Regions from separate parts of the Homo sapiens genome. Here region 2 is linked to region 1. Evidence: fine-mapped expression QTL. Tissue or cell type: whole blood. Region 1 holds a variant in brackets; the other region holds the start of a gene. All regions are shown on one strand. Distances are from middle to middle.

Region 1 (2,682 bases):
CATTCTTTCAGTTACTAATATGCTGTTACTACAATCATTTGGTTGATAAGTTCTTTTAAAATTTTTTTTGAGACAGGGTCTTGCCCTGTCACCCAGGCTGGAGTGCCGTAGTGTGATCACGGCTCACTGTAGCCTTGATCTACTGGGCTCAAGTAATCCTTTCGACTCAGCCTCCCAAGTATGAGACTACGGACTCACACCACCACGCTCGACTAATTTTTTAATTTCTTGCAAAGACTGGGTCTCACTATGTTGCCCAGGCTCGTCTCAAACTCCTAGGCTCAAGCAATCCTCTTGCCTTGGCATCCTAAAGTGCTGGGATTACAACAGGCGTGAGCCACCATTTCCGATCTAGTAAGTTAGTTCTTAAAAATGGGGTTTCTTTGGAGAAGGAAACATATCTATTTTTGATCTAAATAATTAATGTGCTCTTCAAGTGTTTATAAACCTAGACACTCAAGTTTGCATAAAGTAAGGCACTGAACATTTACTCTCTCATGACTTTTCTGATGAATCTTTCCATTTGGAAAGAGTTTCTTTAAAGTGGGCACTATAAAAAATAAAATTACTCAATGCTTACATTGCTTTTATAACTTGTACTTCAATGCTTTCACCGAGGCCACTGGTATGGGAGAATTAATTACTTAAGAGTGGAATTCCCCTTTGGTTTTGGACTTACCTCTATGATTAAATTCACAAGGACACAACAAAAATGATTTACCAGGGCTACTTCAGGCAGCTCTATGCCTTGGTGCTAATTTTGATACCCAAGTTGGAAACCTAATATAACCCTAACCTGGGCATCATATGTCTGTGTGCTGAACTCTGTCTTAGGGGTGCATGATCTTCATCATGCAGAAAGTTACAAATTCATTTTGCATTTTAAATCAAGCTGTTCTCTCATTTTCCATCATGTATTAATACATTTCCACTAAGATTTTGTAAGAAAACAGATCATTTGAATATGATTCACAAAGTCTGACTATTGCTGTGCAGACAGGATTTTTCCACTTGAGTTGAATTTTTTTTTTTTTTTTTTTAGGTAAGGTCTCACTCTGTTGCCCAGGCTGGAATGCAGTGGCATGATCACGGCTCACAGCAGTCTTGACCTTCTGGGCTCAAGTGATCCTCCTGCCTCAGCCTCCCAGGAGTAGATGGGACTACATGTGCACACCACCACACCCAGTTAATTTTTAAATTTTTTTGTAGAGACAAGGATTCACTATGCTGCCTAGGCTGGTTTCAAACTCCTGTGCTCAAGTGAGCCTCCTGCCTCGGCTTCCCAAAGTGCTGGGATTACACTGTGAGCCACTGAGCCTGGCCTATAATCTACTTTTAATTTAGTTAATTTAGTGTGTAGTCACGTGTGCTTGCAGTAG[A/G]CATATGTAATACTAGGCTGCCAAATCACAGACTTCCTCAAAAACCTTAAGTCTTCTCATGCCACTCTGAGCGTCAAGGTACCCAAAGGAAGAAGAAAATACGTGCATGGGATATACCTAACTTATTTATTGGTTCCTATGACTTGAGTCATGCCTTTCTTTTCTTTACATATTCAGTCTGAATTGGGTATCCTCCTTTAATAAAGTGCTATACCCAGAAAACACACAAAATTTAAACCACCAAACACAATACTAGGTTGTCATTAAGGCTCTGCAAATCAAATACACAAATTAGATGTCCATTTCTCCTTTGAAAGACTGGAAGCAACTGGTCACCACTCCTCCTCCACCCCTCTTTTAACCTGAGGGTAGTTTGAGAAAACTTCTACCTTATTATACTAACATTTCCAAAGAGGGAGAAAAATTACAGCCTTCTAATTCAACTCACAGGACTTTGCAGGATCTGAGTAACTCGTTTCCTCTGCTCCATCATGTTGAAGTCTTGTCGTAGATCAGGAGACATGTTCCTCTCCCTAATGTATTCTGGGTCATTTTCATTGATGCGGTCAAAATATCTCTCTTTGTGAGGCATGCTGGGAGGAGGAGGAGTGGTAATCACGCCTTGGCTGGCATCTGAGCTCATGTTTTAAGTCTGTGGATTACTCTTGTTATCTGCATTAATAAACACAAAGAAGGACATCCATGATAAATTCATTAAATTCAAAATTTACATGGGTCAAGCAGAACTTTTACATTTTGCCCTCAGAGTTAACAGGTGCACTTTAAAAAGTAGCTTCTCAAAAATATTAGAACAATTTTTTATTCATATAAAAAGATCTTAGATTATAATGCTCGATTTGTAATTGATATTTTCAGAGCTAACAGAAACTCATGGTTCAATTAAATTACGTTAATGTCATCAACTGCCTTTTTTTTTTTTTTTTTTTGAGATGGAGTCTCACTGTGTCACCCAGGCTGGAGTGCAGTGACGTGATCTTGGCTCAATGCAACCTCCACCTCCTGGGTTCAAGAGATTCTCCTGCCTCAGCCTCCCGAGTAGTTGGGACTACAGGCGCGTGCCACCATGCCCAGCTAATTTTTGTATTTTTTTAAGTAGAGATGGGGTTTCACCATATTGACCATGCTGGTCTGGAACTACTGATCTCATGGTCTGCCCACCTCGGCCTCCCAAAGCATTGGGATTATAGGCATGAGCCACTGTGCCCAGCTGGGCTGAAGTGATCCTCCTGCCTTGGCCTCCCAAAGTGATAAGATTACAGGCATGAGCCTCTGTGCCTGGCCC
Region 2 (2,682 bases), 94 kb after region 1:
TGTCTGTGGTCTTGCCTAAGCTATAATAGCCTACCTCCAAAGAGGCTGGACGTGCCCCAAACACCAGCACACCAGACCTGCTGCCAACTTCGCTTGTCACCCCTAGCAGGAAGCTCAACCTAACATGTATACGTTTGTAGGGGCGGTGTGTTTGTGTGTGTCTGTGTTGGGGGGTGGGGAAGCGGATTATAGGAGAAAGGTGACTGAACACTTTCAACTTGTAACAAAAAAAATTTTTTTTAAATGAGGAGAAAAACAACTAAAACCAACATTCGCTCCCTTTCCTCCACCTTTTCTAAGCGCAGGAACCTCTCACTCCCCTGGAGCGCACCTTCAGGGCTTAAGGTCCCCGGGGTCACCTAAGCTTCAGCCAGTAACTGATTTTGGTACTCCCCGCCTTCCTAGGGAAAACCAGCAGACGCGCGAAGCGTCGGGCCCACCCGGCGGCGCCGCAGGCCGTGCACCGCCACCCCCGGACCCTCCCCCGCAGGTACGCTCCCCTCTGGCCTGGCCGTGGTCCCCACTCCCGCCCCGGAAAAGGGTTCACCTGAGGCCGCAGGGACAGCCAATGAGAAGTCCCCTTGGCCCCGCCAGCCGCCGCTCCCTACCCCCGCGCGACCCCCAGTAGCGTCCCCAGTGCTAGCCCCCGCGCGGGTGCCCGCGTCCCGGCCCGGAAGAGAGGCGGGACGACGGCGCGTCCTCTCCCCGCAAGATTACCTCGCAGCGCGTAGCCGGCTTTGTGTTTCCCCTCCCTCCTTCTCGGCAGCCGCCCGGGCTGCAGCAGCCGCCGGATCCGCCGCTGCGGCCGCCTCTTAAGCGCCGCAGAGCCCCAGAGGGTAGGGCGGGAGAAGGGGAGGGGGCTTGAGGAGGGAGGGACCTGTACGCCGAGCCCTGTGCAGCAGGAAGCGGCGACACCTGGGATGCCGACGCCTCTGGCGCTTGCTCTGTGTTTTAAAAAATCTAATTTAAACCCCTCTTCTTTCCCTCCCGCCCCTCACACTGGCGACCGTTACGGGCTGGCGGCTCGCGCTCTGGCGGGACTAGCCGAGCGCCCCTCGAGCGTCCCTTGGTCCCGCCCCCTAACGCCCCGCCCCTAGGTCCCCAAGCGCCCCCCCCGGTCACGCCCCCAAGGTCCGCCCCTCGCAGCCCCCTACGCCTCTGGCCCCGCCTCTTGGGCTCCGAAGCCTCCCGGCCCCGCCTCCTCAAGACCTCGCCTCTGGCAGCCCCGAGCTCTCTCTGGCCCCGCCCCGAGCGCCCCTCGGGAGTCCTGGTCCCGCCCCCGCAGCCCCCTCCGCGCCCTCAAGCTCTAAGTCCGTGAAGCCGCAGCGGTGGGGGCCTGCAGGCCCGGCAGCCGGGAGGGCCTGGTTCGGGGCGGCTGCCTGGCGCCTTTTCAACGTCCTCTTCTGACTGTGCAGCTCGAATCCGCGGCGTCCCCGGAGGGCCAGAGGGGGAAACGACCCCGATAGAAACCCGACCGCGAAGGGGAGGAGGGGCGCCTCGGAAATGTCTCCCGCCCTAAATGAGCGAGCCCCCTACTCCTACTCCCGAGGCTGAGCCGCCGCTTTGAGTCAGCCTCGGCCGCCCACGCTGGCTGCTGGGGCTGTAGGAGGCCACTGCAAAGGTTCAACCTCCGCACGCCCCCCGTGGGGCCTGGACTTTGCTCTCAGCACAGCTGCCTTCGCGGGCGCCTAGTCCCCACAACCCCTGCTTCACCTCCACATAGGGGGAGGACAGGGGCTCTCGCTTCTGCTTCATTTGGACCCCTCGAGAGTCTTCACTCCCGCTTTGGCTCCCGGCCTCTGAACCTTATGAGAGCTCACTTCTTTGAGGCGAAAAGTCGAGGCATCGCCAAGAACCTTCAAAATGAATGCGGGGCCGGGCAAACTTTGCAACACGCAATTGCAGGGCTGTGGATCCATCCACAGGTGACACCGGGCCTCCCACCCCCCTCGCCCAGACATGTTTCTCATCCCAACCTATTCTTGAAATAGACCTCCCAGCGGTGCACACTTTTCTCTGCCACCCACGACTTCCACGTCCCTCCTGCACCAGTACACTTGCAAGCACACCCCTCCGAGCGCCATTCTAATGATTCATGGTCCCTTGGGCCAACCCCACCCTAACACACACAACAAACTTCGTTCCCCACCCTTATCCCCCTTCGTTTCCAAGGCACTGGCGACAATCCACTTCATTTCCTTTCCTCATCTGCAGACTCGTCCCCCTCAAATACCTCACGCCATCCGCCTCATCTTCATCCCCCCCCTCCTCCCTAAAAATGTGCTAATTAAAATGTAGTTTCCTCTTCCCACATATGAAGTGTGGAAAATGAATCTTGTCTTGACACAAACTGTGATGCATTTATCGTTTTCTCTCTCCACTGGACTAAGGCTGTAGAAATTTTAGTCTACCACCATCTCCCATTTGCTCAAAAAATCCAACCATGCCTTATTATTTTTAAATACTCTTAACGAATCGTGGGGAAGGCTGCCTAGTTTGAGGAAGAAAATTGTTTAGAAAATGCTCAGCCTGACATTTTATTTGGTATTTAAAAATATCTGCAGTATTTGAGAGAGATATTGGGAGTGGCTGGATATTTTCTTGCATTTAAAAAGCAAAAAAATGAAAAGCTTTGCATGCATCAAGGTTAGCCTTTTTATGAATAGCAAAAAAAGTATCCTA

What was found. PIP is the estimated chance that this variant, and not a neighbour inherited with it, causes the effect.
Region 2: ADD3 starts here. The variant in region 1 is fine-mapped to the expression of ADD3 in whole blood (INTERVAL, PIP above 0.99).

What each region holds. Positions count from the first base shown.
Region 1 is chr10:110,099,994-110,102,675 of GRCh38, reverse strand. ADD3 (adducin 3) reads right to left here. Exons shown (of 15, transcript NM_016824.5): 2 at 1,828-2,051. The coding sequence starts at 2,022. Among named protein-coding and RNA genes, the nearest start is that of ADD3-AS1, 93 kb to the right of the region's middle. The variant A/G (reference allele first, on the strand shown) is at 1,380.
Region 2 is chr10:110,006,335-110,009,016 of GRCh38, reverse strand. ADD3 (adducin 3) reads right to left here and starts at 1,033. Exons shown (of 15, transcript NM_016824.5): 1 at 718-1,033. ADD3-AS1 (ADD3 antisense RNA 1) reads left to right here and starts at 636. Exons shown (of 5, transcript NR_038943.1): 1 at 636-836. RefSeq lists silencers at 301-710, 1,021-1,450 and enhancers at 1,279-1,832, 1,833-2,388.